Linked DNA regions of Homo sapiens. Changing the gene in region 2 together with the main gene of any one other region gives a genetic interaction. Each region holds a gene or a part of one and is shown on either strand. Other genes may lie near its edges.

Region 1 (7,464 bases), on a different chromosome or scaffold from region 2:
AGCCTGAAGGATAGAGCGAGACTCTGTCTCCAAGAAAACAAACGAACAAAAAACACAAAGAAATTGGTTTTATTGTTGAGTTATAAATGTTCTTTGTATATTTTGGATAAAGACACTTATCAGATACATGGTTTGCAAATATTTTCTTCCATTCTGTAGGTTGTTTTTTCACTTTCCTTTTTTTTTTTGAGACGGAGTCTTGCTCTGTCGCCCAGGCTGGAGTGCAGTGGCGCAATCTCGGCTTACAGCAACCTCCGCCTTCTGGGTTCAAGTGATTATTCTGCTTCAGCCTCCCAAGTAGCTGGGACTACAGGCATGCACCACCACGCCTGGCTAATTTTTGTATTTTTAGTAGAGATGGGGTTTCACCATATTGGCCAGGCTGTTCTCAAACTCCTGACCTCGTGATCCACCCACCTCAGCCTCCCAAAGTGCTGGGATTACAGGCGTGAGCCACTGCGCCTGGCCTTCACTTACTTTTTTTTTTTGGAGACAGAGTCTCCCCTTTCATGCAGTGGCACGATCTCGGCTCACTGCAACCTCCGCTTCCTAGGTTTAAGGGATTCTTATGCCTCATTATTCCCAGTAGCTGGGATTACAGGCGTGTGCCCCCATGCCCAGCTAATTTTTGTATTTTTAGTAGACAGGGTTTCACCATGTTGGTCAGGCTGGTCTGGAACTCCTGACCTCAGGTGATCTTCCCACCTTGGGCTCCTAGAGTGCTGAGATTACAGGCATGAGCCACCGCACCCAGCCAAAAGATTTTATTGTCCTCTAAGACATTAACCAGTTTTGAACTTAACTTAGCAATATTATGTATTTATTTATTTATTTGAGATGGAGTCTTGGTCTGTTGCCCAGGCTGGAGTGCAGTGCTATGATCTTGGCTCACTGCAACCTCCATCTCCTGGGTTCAAGCGATTGTCCTGCCTCAGCCTCCCAAGTAGTGGGCTCACAGGCGTAAGCCACCATGCCTGGCTAATTTTTGTATTTTTAGTAGAGATGGGGTTTCACCATGTTGGCCAGGCTGATCTCAAACTCCTGACCTCAGGTGATCCAGCCACCTTGGCTTCCCAAAGTGTTGGGATTACAGGCATGAGCCACTGCGCCGGGCCTACTTTCTTAATAACGTCCTTTGCTGCACAAAAGTTTTTCATTTTGTGGAAGTCCAATTTATGTTTTCTTTTGTCTTCCATATCGTCTTAGTTTTTGAAGCATAATTTTACTGAATATAAAATTCTTGGTTGACAGTCTTTCTTTTTAGCACTTTGAATGTGTCCTCTTATGGATGGCTCTGGGATTCCTTGGTTTCTGATGAAAAATCAGCTGTTACTCTTATTGAGCGTTCCTCATATGGGATGAACTGCTTCTCTTTTGCCCGCTTTTGGAATTGTTTCTTTGTCTTTGACAGTCTGATAACAATGTTTCTAGGTGTAAACCTCTGTAAGTTTATCCTACTTGTCATTTGTTGAACTTGTTGGATGTGTAGATCTATATTTTTCATAAATTTGGGAGTTCTTCAGCTATCATTTATTTATTCTTTTGAGACAGAGTCTCGCTTTGTCACTCAGGCTAGAGTGCAATGGTGTGGTCTCGGCTCACTGCAACCTCCACCTCCTGGATCCAAGCGATTTTCCTGTTTCAGCCTCTCAAGTAGCTGGGATTACAGGCTTGCGCCACCATACCTGGCTAACTTTTGTATTTTTAGTAGAGATGGGGTTTTGCCATGTTGGCCAGCCTGGTCTCGAACTCCTGACCTCAAGTGATCTGCCCGCCTTGGCCTCCCAAAGTGCTGGGATTACAGGTGTGAACCACCATGCCTGGCCTCAGCTATTATTTAAGAATCTTTTTCTGCTCATTTCTCTTCTTCTGAGACTCCATTATGCATACATTGGTATAACTTAAGGTGTCCCATAAATCTTCTAGACTCCGTTCCTTTCTCTTTATTCTTTTTTCTTTCTGTTTCTCAGATTGGACAGTCGAACTGAGGTATCTTCAAGTTTACTGATTCTTTCTTTTTCCTGCTCAAATCTTTGGTTGAGCCCCTCTAGTGACTCTTTGATTTTAGTAAATATATTTTTCTTTTTCTTTTTCTTTTTTTTCTTTGAGACAAAGTCTCACTCTGTCGCCCAGGCTGGAGTGCAGTGGCTTGATCTCCGCTCACTGCAACTTCTGCCTCCCGGGTTCAAGTGATTCTCCTGTCTCAGCCTCCTGAGTAGCTGGGATTACAGGCATGTGCAACCATGCCTGGCTAAATTTTGTATTTTTAGTAGAGACAGGGTTTCGCTATGTTTGTCAGGCTGGTCTCGAACTCCTGACCTCAGGTGATCTGCCTGCCTCGGCTTCCCAAAGTGCTGGGATTACAGGCGTGAGCCACTGCACCCGGCCTTAGAATGTTAATTCTAACAGTTTTTGCCAGTTTCTTCATTGCTTTTATGTTGGGATGGACTTTGGGACTGCCTTACTCTGCCTTTTTTTGCTTATGTTATCCTATGTTTATATGACCCCATAGATTCTGATTCTGGATCTGACTCAGATTCTGATCAAGAGAATGCTGCCTCTGGCAGTAATGCCTCTGGAAGTGAAAGTGATCAGGATGAAAGAGGTGATTCAGGACAACCAAGTAATAAGGAACTGTTTGGAGATGACAGTGAGGACGAGGGAGCTTCACATCATAGTGGTAGTGATAATCACTCTGAAAGATCAGACAATAGATCAGAAGCTTCTGAGCGTTCTGACCATGAGGACAATGACCCCTCAGATGTAGATCAGCACAGTGGATCAGAAGCCCCTAATGATGATGAAGACGAAGGTCATAGATCGGATGGAGGGAGCCATCATTCAGAAGCAGAAGGTTCTGAAAAAGCACATTCAGATGATGAAAAATGGGGCAGAGAAGATAAAAGTGACCAGTCAGATGATGAAAAGATACAAAATTCTGATGATGAGGAGAGGGCACAAGGATCTGATGAAGATAAGCTGCAGAATTCTGACGATGATGAGAAAATGCAGAACACAGATGATGAGGAGAGGCCTCAGCTTTCCGATGATGAGAGACAACAGCTATCTGAGGAGGAAAAGGCTAATTCTGATGATGAACGGCCGGTAGCTTCTGATAATGATGATGAGAAACAGAATTCTGATGATGAAGAACAACCACAGCTGTCTGATGAAGAGAAAATGCAAAATTCTGATGATGAAAGGCCACAGGCCTCAGATGAAGAACACAGGCATTCAGATGATGAAGAGGAACAGGATCATAAATCAGGTAATACATTTATGAGAACCAGAATGGCTCAGAAAGAAGCATTCAGATACAGCAGGGACCCATTTAGTCTTTATTCCCATCTTTATTACCCTGTTTTTTCTCTTCTGTCCCCTCCCTTTCAAACTTTTCTAACTCTAGAATACATTTTGCTTCTTTTAAATCTTTCTAATCCACTTATTCTTTCTTACTCCTTTCCCTTCCATTTGTTAATGGATAGGTCTGGGGGAAAACAATTTAAAGAGGACTTAAAATTGAGTCTTAGAGGGAGGGATATGGTGTAAGAAGAGCTGATAATGAGTTAAGTTGATTCCATTTCTGTGGATAACTGAAGAGCATGCCTCATGTGAGAGAATAGATTAGCCTGGGGAAAAAAACCATACCATTGAAGTGTCCCCACAGAGCAGCTGTACTGAGATGTGGGCACCATTGCTGCAGCTCAGCTTTTTGAGATCCAAAATTTGATCATCCAGAGATGGTCAAGCTCTAAGGAGTTTACTCAAACTAGTCAAATTTACAAGATATTAATGTATAAAATTGAATTGCAAAATTGTTTCAAGAGGATCAGTTATTTCTCCCTTATCACCCCATATGTTTCCCCGGGGGCAAATCTAGCGTGGATGGCAAATTATAATAATCAGGAGGTTGCCCAGGGAGTATAATATGTAGAAAGTGCAAACATGGCTGGGTGATCTCAATGGACAGTGTTACTGAGCCAAGACAGATTGATGGGTGTATCCTCACCCTACAGAGACGAGCTTGGGTTACAGCACTCATTCCCTAAAGACTACAGGAGGCATACACCTGAACTTTGGTTCCTGGACCTGCTTTTATCATTGCCATTTAGACTATTCTGCTCAAGTTAACACATTCTTCATATAGAATGTACAAAAAATTAGAGATCATATTTCTTTGTATTATATAAAAGTTACCTTAATTAAGTTGAAGTCTTCCTGAAATACCTGGATTGCTTCATTTCCATAGGTGATTGATTATATTAATTATATTTTGATCCTATCTTCTTAGCTTAAATATGAGGGCATCTAACACACACCTCACAGGACAGGATTCAGAAACCACATCTTGGTGTTATTAGAAGAGGAGGGCAGCATATTTCCAGAGATGAATATAGATCTGTGTAGACTATGGGACTGCAGTAAGTTTTCAATAACTAATTCAGAGTAGAGGTTTTTTTTTTTTTTTTAACACTTTAAGTTCTAGGGTACATGTGCACAACGTGCAGGTTTGTTACATAGGTATACATGTGCCATGTTGGTGTGCTGCACCCATCAACTCGTCATTTACATTAGGCATTTCTCCTAATGCTATCCCTCCCCCTGCCCCTCACCCCATGACAGGCCCCGGTGTGTGATGTTCCCTGCCCTGTGTCCAACTGTTTTCATTACTCAGTTCCCACCTATGAGTGAGAACATGCGGTGTTTGGTTTTCTGTCCTTGTGATAGTTTGCTGAGAATGATGGTTTCCAGCTTCATCCATGTCCCTCATGTCCCTGCAAAGGACATGAACTCATCCTTTTTTTTTTTTTGAGACGGAGTCTCGCTCTGTCTCCCAGGCTGGAGTGTAGTGGCATGATCTCAGCTCACTGCAAGCTCCGCCTCCTGGGTTCACGCCATTCTCCTGCCTCAGCCTCCCGAGTAGCTGGGACTACAGGCACCCGCCACCACGCCCGGCTAATTTTTTGTATTTTTAGTAGAGACAGGGTTTCACCGTGTTAGCCAGGATGGTCTCGATCTCCTGACCTCGTGATCCGCCTGCTTCGGCCTCCCAAAGTGCTGGGATTACAGGCGTGAGCCACTGCGCCCGGCCACTCATTTTTTTTTTTTTTTTTTTTTTGAGACAGAGTCTCTGTCATCCAGGCTGGAGTGCAGTGGCACCATCTTGGCTCACTGCAATCTCCACCTCCTGGGTTCAAGCAATTCTTCTGCCTCAGCTTCCTGAGTAGCTGGGATTAAAGGTGTGCACCACCAAACCCAGCTAATTTTTGTATTTGTAGTAGAGAGGAAGTTTCCCCATGTTGGCCTGGCCGGTCTCGAACTCCTGATCTCAGGTGATCTGCCCACCTTGGCCTCCCAAAGTGCTGGGATTACAGGCAAGAGCCACCATGCCTGGCCGAAAGTAGGGCTGTTTTTACTGTTACCAGAAAGAATCTTTAAGGCTCATGTACTACATCCCAAATACTAGAAGACCAAGTCAAGGGCAGGGTCATAGTAGGGAACCTTGTAGCTGGTCATTCTGCTTATCTCTTACTAGTTCAACAGTGGTTCTGTTGATTTTTGTGACATTTTTACGTAAATAATTGGCCCTTCTAGAAATAATGATATATTTGTCAGTTCCTTTTTAATCTTTTTACCTTTTTTTCCCTGAAATTTGTCTTATGTAAATTTGATAAGTTTTAGTGCTACTTTTCTCATTTCTACCAAGTTTTTGTACTTGCAAAGCCAGTATATTTATTTATTTGAGACAGTCTCGCTCTGTCACCCAGGCTGGAGTGCAGTGGTGCGATCTTGGCTCACTGCACCATCAGTCTCCCAGGTTCAAATGATTCTCTTGCCTCAGCCTCCTAAGTAGCTGGGACTACAGGTGCACGCTACCACACCCGGCTAATTTTTGTATTTGTAGTAGAGATGGGTTTCACCATGTTGGCCAGGCTGGTCTTGAATTCCTGACCTCAAGTGATCCACCCACCTCGTCCTCTCAAAGTGCTGGGATTACAGGCATGAGCCACCACAACTGGCACCAGTATTTATTTTAAGAATTCTGTTTTTTAAATTAACACACACTAGAGTTAATTTTTTGGGGGGGGGGCATGTTCTGCATGTACAGCTCTATTCATGTTAACATATCTATAGATTTGTCTAACCACCACCACACTCAGGATGCAGAATCGCTGTCACACTGAAAAACTCCCTTATGCTATCCCTTTTGAGTCGTATCTTTCTGCTACCCCTAAACCCTGGCACCTACTGGTCTTTTCTGTCACTAAACTTTTGGTTTTTTGGAAATGTCATATAAATAGAGTTATACAGTAAGTATGTAGTCTTTCAGATTGGCCTCTTTAACTTGGCATATAGCATTTTTGATTCATCCAATTGGTTACATGTATCAGCAGTTCATTCCTCTTTATTGCTGAGTAGTAGTCCATTGTATCACAATTTGTTTATCTCCAATATTGCTTTTAAAACACAAAATTCAACTAATGCGACTGATTATGCAGAACTTCTAATTCTACCCTTATAGAATCTGCAAGAGGCAGTGATAGTGAAGATGAAGTTTTACGAATGAAACGCAAGAATGCGATTGCATCTGATTCAGAAGCGGATAGTGACACTGAGGTGCCAAAAGGTATCCCTATTATTATATATATATGTATATTTCCATACCTCTTTCTGTATTTAACTGTAGTGCATTTCTAACCCTGAGTGTGTTTACCCCAGATCGCCAGACCCACAGAATAAGAGTGTGGATACGCTCAGTGTACTCAGAGAAGTTATATAGCTATGAGAAGCTGCTCATGCTTAATTAGTTGAAGAAGAACCTGCCTCTTTGTAGTTTTTTTTTTTTTTTTTAAGAGACAGAGTCTTGCTCTGTCACCCACGCTGGAGTGCAGTGGTGCAAGCTCAGCTTATTGCAACTGCTGCCTCCTGGGTTCAAGCAATTCTCCTCCCTCAGCCTCCTGGTAGCTGGAATTACAGGAACGTACCACCATGCCTGGCTAAATTTTTTGTATTTTTAGTAGAGGTGGGGTTTCACTATGTTGGCCAGGTTGGTCTCGAACTCCTGATCTCAAGTGTTCCACCCACCTCAGCCTCCCGAAGTGCTGGGATTACAGGCGTGAATCACTGCGCCCAGTCTGTTTATAGTTAGAGTGAATTCATTATTAGGGGGCTGACCTTCTTATTGGGATGGAGGTTACAATGTCCATTCTTCACTTTGAATAATGACAGTCTCGGTGTTTTGTTCCTAAGTTCTTGACTTAGATGAAGAAACTGATTCTTTGAGCTGTGAGTTAGATGAAGAGCTCATAAAAACCCAGTGTTGGCTGGGTGCAGTGGCTCACGCCTGTAATCCCAGCACTTTGGGAGGCCAAGGTGGGTGGATCACTTGAGGCCAGGAGTTCAAGACCAGCTTGGCCAACATGGTGAAGCCCTGTCTGTACTAAAAATACAAAACATTAGCGG
Region 2 (7,464 bases):
CTCTTAGTTTTAGTCATAATAACCCCAAAACTGAAAACAACCAGGATGTCCATCTATAGGAGACTAGATAAATGGATATAGTCATACAATGTAGTATTACTGAGCCAAGAAAAAAAAAGGAATTAACTACTGATTTATCCAACAACATGGATAAATCTCAAAAATATCATGCGGAATAAAGAAGGCTTGCACAAAAAAGTAAAATCAAGAATGATCCCACTTACATGGATTACTATGCCAGACACAACTAATCTATCGTGGGAAAAAGTTCTTTGGGGTATAGGGACTGGGACTGCCTGGAAAGGAGCATGAAAGAAACTCCTGGGGTGACAGTGAAGTTATAAACCTTGAAAGAGGTATGGGTTTCATAGGATAACAAACGTATTAAATGGTACAATTAAGACAAGCATTTCAAGCAATCAATTAATTACGCTGGTACCCTACTCTTCATATTAGAACTAATTTTTTTTGTTTGAGACGTAGTCTTGCTCTGTCGACCAGGCTGGAGTGCAATGGCAGGATCTCGGCCCACTGCAACCTCCGCCTTCTGGGTTCAAGCGATTCTCCCACCTCAGCCTCCCCGGTAGCTGGGATTATAGGTACCCACCATCATGCCCGGCAAATTTTTGTAGAGATGGGGTTTCACCATGTTGGCCACACTGGTCTTGAACTCCTGACTTCAGGTGATCCGCCCATCTCGGCCTCCCAAAGTGCTGGGATTACAGGTGTGAACCACTGCACCCGGCCTCAGAACTAATTTTACCTTAAAATTTTACCTAAAAGCCAGGTGCGGTGGCTCACACCTGTAATCCCAGCACTTTGGGAAGCGGAGGTGGGCGAATCACAAGGTCAAGAGATAGAGACCAGAGACCAGCTAATTCTAGCACTTTAGGAGGCCGAGGTGGGCAGATAATCAGGTCAGGAGATCAAGGCTGTCTTGGCCAACATGGTGAAACCCCGTCTCTACTGAAATACAAAAAAAATTAGCCAGGTGTGGTGGCACATGCCTGTAATCCCAGCTACTTGGGAGGCTGAGGCAGGGGAATCGCTTGAACCTGGGAGGCGGAGGTTGTGGTGAGCTGAGATCTCGCCACTGCACTCCAGCCTGGCGAAAGAGCAAGACTCCATCTCAAAAAAAAAAAAAAAGAAAGAGACCATCCTGGTCAGCATGGTGAAACCCCGTCTCTACTAAAATTACAAAAATTAGCTGGGCTTGGTGGCGTGTGCCTGTAGTCCCCGCTATTCGGGAGGCTGAGGTGGAAGAATCGCTTGAACCTGGGAGGTGGAGGTTGCAGTGAGCCAAGATTGTGCCACTGCACTCCTGCCTGGTGACAGAGCGAGACTCCGTCTCAAAAAAAAAAAAAAATGCCGAGCATGGTGGCTCATGCCTGTAATCCCAGCACTTTGGGGGGCCGAGGCAGGCGGATCATGAGGTCAGGAGATCGAGACCATCCTGGCTAACACGGTGAAACCCCGTCTCTACTAAAAATACAAAAAAAAATTAGCCGGCCGTGATGGCGGGCGCCTGTAGTCCCAGCTACTTGGGAAGCTGAGGTAGGAGAATGGTGTGAACCCGGAAGGCGGAGCTTGCAGTGAGCCGAGATGGCACTCCAGCCTGGGTGACAGAGCAAGCCTCGTCTCAAAAAAAAAAAATTACCTAAAGAACCTTAAAACAGTAAATTGTAAGTCAGTGTTATGTAAGAGGGGTGAGGTATACCGATGTGTACACCTACAACATACTTTGAAATGCATCAAGAAAAATTTGATGGAAAAACTTTACAGAGATTATCTTGGGTTTGAAAAATAAAAGAAAACCTGATAGATACATAATATAATAAGATGTTAATTGTAGAATCTAGGTCGTTGGTATTATATAAATGGGTGTTCACGGCACAATTCTTTCAACTTTTGTGTTTATTTATTTTTGAGATGGAGTCTTGCTCTGTCGCCCAGGCTGGAGTGCAGTGGCGCTGTCTTGGCTCACTGTAAACCTCTGCCACCGGGTCAGCAATTCTCCTGCCTCAGACACTGAGTAGCTGGGATTACAGGTCTGTACCCACCATGCCAAGCTAATTTTTGTATTTTCAGCAGACATAGCGTTTCACCATGTTGGCCAGGTTGGTCAAGAACTCCCAGCCTCAGGTGATCTGCCCACCATGGCCTTCCAAAGTGCTGGGATTACAGGCGTGAGGCACCACGCCTGGCCAACTTTTGTGTTTAAAAACTGCTATAACAGGCCAGGTGCAGTGGCTCACACCTGTAATCCCAGCACTTTGGAAGGCCCAGGTGGGCAGATCACCTGAGGCTGGGAGTTCCAGACCAGACTGACCAACACGGTGACACCTCGTCTCTACTAAAAATACAAAAATTAAGTGGGTGTGGTCACTCACACCTGTAGTCACAGCTACTTGGCAGGCTGAGGCAGGAGAATGAACACAGGAGGCGGAGGCTGCAGTGAGCTGAGATCGTGCCACTGCACTTCAGCCTGGGCGACAGAGTGATACTCTGTCTCAAAAACAAACAAGCAAAAAAAACCCTGCTATAACAAAATGCTGTTTTGTTGGGAGAATATATAAAGTCTCCCTTTTCTCTCTTCCATTTACATAGTACCCATATATACATCTCTATCACACACATAAGTATTGTTAATAATTTCATGTATAGTCTTTCAGTTTGTTTATGCATATATAAGCAAAATCAAATAATACATTATTTTTTCTTTTCAAAAAGAAATTAGTATAGATTCTATAGATTCTATTCTGAATTTTGTTTTTTTTTCTCTTAATATTTCTTGGAGAGCTTACCATTGTCAGTACATTGAGAGCATCTTCATTCTGAATAGATACGTTATAATTTTTTTTTTTTTTTTTTTTTGAGATGGAGTTTTGCTTTGTTGCCCAGGCTGAAGTGCAATGGTGCGATCTCGGCTCACCACAACCTCCACCTCCTGGGTTCAAGTGATTCCCCTGCCTCAGCCTCCTGAGTAGCTGGGATTACAGGCATGCGCCACCATGCCTGGCTAATTTTGAATTTGTAGTAGAGACGGGGTTTCTCCATGTTGGTCAGGCTGGTCTCGAAATCCCGACCTCAGCTGATCCGCCCGCCTCGGCCTCCCAAAGTGCTGGGATTACAGGCATGAGCCACCGTGCCTGGCCAATTTTTTTTTTTTAATGTAGTCACTCAGTGGACATTTAGGTTCCAAACTTTGCTACTGCAAAACTACAATCAATGTTTCAAAGGTGATTTTCTTTTTTTTTTTTTGAGACAGTCTCGCTCTGTTGCCCAGGCTGGAGTGCAATGGCACAGTCTGGGCTCACTGCAACCTCCACCTCCCAGTTTCAAGTGATTCTCCCTGCCTCAGCCTCCCAAGTAGCTGGGATTACAGGCACCCGCAACCATGCCTGGGTAATTTTTATATTTTTAGTAGAGATGGGGTTTCGCCATGTTGGCCAGGCCAGTCTCGAGCTCCTGACCTCAGGTGATCCACCCCCCTCAGCCTCCGAAAGTGCTGGGATTAGGGCGTGAGCCACGGCGCCCAGCCTCAAAGGTGAATTTCTTTCTTTTTTTTTTTTTTTTGAGGAGTCTCGCTCTGTCGCCCAGGCTGCTGGAGTACAGTGGCGCAATCTCGGCTCACTGCAAGCTCCGCCTCCCAGGTTCACGCCATTCTCCTGCCTCAGCCTCCCGAGTAGCTGGGACTACAGGTGCCTGCCACCACGCCCGGCTAACTTTTGTATTTTTAGTAGAGATGGGATTTCACCCTGTCAGCCAGGATGCTCTCGATCTCTTGACCTCGTGATCCACCTGCCTCAGCCTCCCTAAGTGCTGGGATTACAGGCGTGAGCCACCGCGCCCCGCCTCAAAGGTGAATTTCTAAACAAATGCTTAATTAAAATTACAATGTTATTTACTCTTTTACTTCTTATATTTGACCTATTTGACCCTTCAAAAATACAAATGCTTCAAATCCATTAAAATCATACACAGGTCTGTCAGCCCATTAAATATAACACGCAGACAGCCAAGTAGCAATTTTTTCAGCAAAAAGCTCCCACAAAATTCGATCACACTAGTTAGGCTATCGTCTATGTCAGGCAAGCCAAGCCTCATAAAACTGTATATATCTGTAGTCAAGTAGGCCAGGTAAACATTGACTCTCAACATCATTCTGTTCTGTAATATTGGCCAAATATTTATTGCAAATATCAGGCCCTCAACACTGAAGATAAAGTGCACTGCTATTAAGTGTCCAATATGAAGTACAATGAGATAATCAAATCCATTTTTTAATTAATTTCCTTTATTATAGACAAAATGAATTACTAAATTTACTAATTAAATTTAATACTTTGCTTAAACAAGTACTATTCACACTTTTTCATGAAGGACCTCAATCCACAGTATTTTTGTAAAACAGAATAACAATGTTATGGCAATGTCAAATTGCTATAAAAGTTTCTAATTACTCTTTTTTTTTTTTTTTTTTTGGAGACAGAGTCTCACTCTGTCACCCAGACTGGAGCAGTGCAGTGGCGCAATCTTGGCTCACTGCAACCTCTGCCTCCTGGGTTGGAGCAACTCTCCTGCCTCAGCCTCCTGAGTAGCTGGAATTACAGGTGTGCGTCACCATACCTGGCTAATTTTTGTATTTTTAGCAGAGATGGGGTTGCACCATGTTGGCCAGGCTGGTCTTGAACTCCTGACCTCAGGTGATCCACCCACCTCAGCCTCTTAGAGTGTGGGGATTACAGGCGTGAGCCACTGCGCCCGGCCAATTACTCATTTTTTGAACTTAATGTATAACAAACACAAACACATAGTTTGGAGATAAGTGGGCAAACCACACTTTGAGTAGCACTGATTCAGACCGTAAGCAGGACTAACATTTTTAAGTTCCTTCAATTAGCTAGTCATAAATCAATCCAAACACATCATCGAAATTTAGAAAAAAAATTAATTTACCTTGGGAAAATATTTGTATAATCCCATGTACGCAAGTTGTAAAGTAAGAAATGGAGCAAATATGGACTGTGAAGATAGAAGATAAAATTAAATATTTCCAACATAATCATTCAAATCACAATAAATCAAACAGCAGCTAGAAAATTCCAAGCAAAAGCTGTAAGAAAATGTTGTTATTATTATTTTTTGAGACGGAGTCTTCCTCTGTCACCCAGGCTGAGTGCAGTGGCACGATCTTGGTTCATGGCAACATCCACCTCCCAGATTCAAGCGATGCTCGTGCCTCAGCCTTCTGAGTAGATGGGATTACAGGCGCCCGCCACCACACCTGGCTAATTTTTGTATTTTTAGTAGAGACAGGGTTTCACCATGTTGGCCAGTATGGTCTAGAACTCCTGACCTCGTGATCCACCCACCTCGGCCTCCCAACATGCTGGGATTACAGGTATGAGACACCGCGCCTGGCAATTGCTTTTTTTTTTTAAGATGGAGTCTCGCTCTGTCACCCAGGCTGGAGTGCAGTGGCTCAATCTCAGCTCACTGCAACCCCTGCCTCCCCAGTCCAAGCAATTCTCCTGCCTCAGCCTCCCATAAAATAGTAATTTTAATGGTTAAAAGTAATCTTTTTTCTGCAGAAGGGTGAAGAAAATAAAATATTTGATTTCCTAACATAAAATATGTTTCTCAAGTCATACAATTCTTTCATATTCTTTTAGCGTCCCCAAAACTGTCTTCTCTCATAAAAACTTATCTTTTAAATTATTTAAAGTATTAAATGGTGACAGATGTTTAACACAGTAACACAGATGCGGTAACATCTCGGTCACCCAGAGGGAATTAATTGATATCCAGGAAGCATACAGAAAAGGCCCAGCACTCAAAATACGTGGCATTCTTCCAGCTATGCAGAAGGCTGAGGCAGGAGGACTGCTTGAGCCCAGAAGTTCTAGTCCAGCCTGGACACCATAGCAAGATCCTATCTCTAAAACAACAACAACAACAAAACTAAATGCTTGGCTGGGTGCGGCGGCTCATGCCTGTAATCCCAGCACTTTGGGAGGCAGAGTTGGGTGGATCATGAGGTCAGGAGATGGAGACCATCCTGGCTAACACGGTGAAACCCCATCTCTACTAAAAATACAAAAAATTAGCCGTGCGTGTTGGCACATGCCTGTAGTCCCAGCTACTCGGGAGGCTAAGGCAGGAGAATCGCTTGAACCCAGGAGGTGGAGGTTGCAGTGAGCCAAGATCACATCACTGCACTCCAGCCTGGCGAAAGAAACTCCACCTCAAAAAAAAAAAGATTTACAAAAACTGTTTTGCTTAATGATATAAACTTTAATTATCTGGATATTTATGTGCCTGGTACATATACTTAAAATGTCTACTGAATGGAAAAACCTCAGAGCAAGACACTGAACTATGAGCTATGCTTTTCTGCATTCTTTAATATACTATAAAACAAAATGACTACATCATGGTACAACCAAAATGGACTCATTATGATATATTAGGAAATGCTGAAATGTCTTCTGAACCATAGGAAGATTACCTCATATTCAGGACCAGAGGAACTGCATTTTACTATTTCAAATTATTTGAAAATTGATAATATACAGTATATATATGTAAAGCACTTAACCCTTTGGTTAAGGACTGAAACTGCCAGGGTTTAATCCTAGCACCGCTTAGTAGCTGTGTGACCTTGGGCAAATGGTTTAACCTCTCTGAGTCTTCATTTCCCAATGGATTCACATAATACCAAGTTCATAAGAATGAGGATTAGATGAATTAATGTATGCAAAACAATGAGAAAGGTCCGTAGAATGAAAAATGGGTTTTAGTACAGTCATCCCTCAGTATCAGCAGAGGACTGGTACCAGGTTCCTCCTGATACCAAAATCCATAGATGCTCAAGTCCCTTATGTAAAACGGCACAGTAAATATAACCTACTCACTTCCTCCCATATACTTTAAATCATTTCTAGATTTTTTATGCCTAATGCAATGTAAATAGTTGTTATACTGTTTTTATTTGTATTATTTACTATTTGTTATTGTTGTATTGTTATTTTTCCCCCAAATATATACACATACATATATTTTTGAGACGGGGTCTCACTCTGTCACCCAGGCTGGAGTGCAGTGCCGTTATCCTGGCTCACTGCAACCTCCACCTCCCGGGTTCAAGCGATTCTCCTGCCTCAGCCTCCCAAGTAACTGGGATTACAGGCGTGCACCACCACGCCCGGCTAAATCCAAATATTTTCAATCCACAATTGGTTGAATCCACATAGGGTGCAGAACCAACTGATATGGAGGGCCAACAGTAATTATTAGGCTCTGTATTTAACCAGAACACTTCATTCTATGAGATGAATAGCAAAGTTAATAATATATCTTCAAACAGCCACATGGATCTGGTAGATATTAATACTGGCAATGACTTCTATGATCAAAAGCACTCATAATTATTAACATTTTGCATTTTCCATTAAGTTAGTT

Evidence for each region. A genetic interaction does not mean that the proteins touch.
Region 1: changes in CAMLG (region 2) and LEO1 impair growth when combined (synthetic growth defect), as found in Homo sapiens cells (one study listed by BioGRID).

What each region holds. Positions count from the first base shown.
Region 1 is NC_000015.10:51,961,553-51,969,016, reverse strand, and holds part of LEO1 (RNA polymerase-associated protein LEO1), read left to right. Parts: intron 1-2,512; coding exon 2,513-3,268; intron 3,269-6,523; coding exon 6,524-6,628; intron 6,629-7,464. UniProt on the Homo sapiens protein: Component of the PAF1 complex (PAF1C) which has multiple functions during transcription by RNA polymerase II and is implicated in regulation of development and maintenance of embryonic stem cell pluripotency.
Region 2 is NC_000005.10:134,741,548-134,749,011, reverse strand, and holds part of CAMLG (guided entry of tail-anchored proteins factor CAMLG), read right to left. Parts: intron 5,026-7,464; coding exon 4,960-5,025; intron 1-4,959. UniProt on the Homo sapiens protein: Required for the post-translational delivery of tail-anchored (TA) proteins to the endoplasmic reticulum.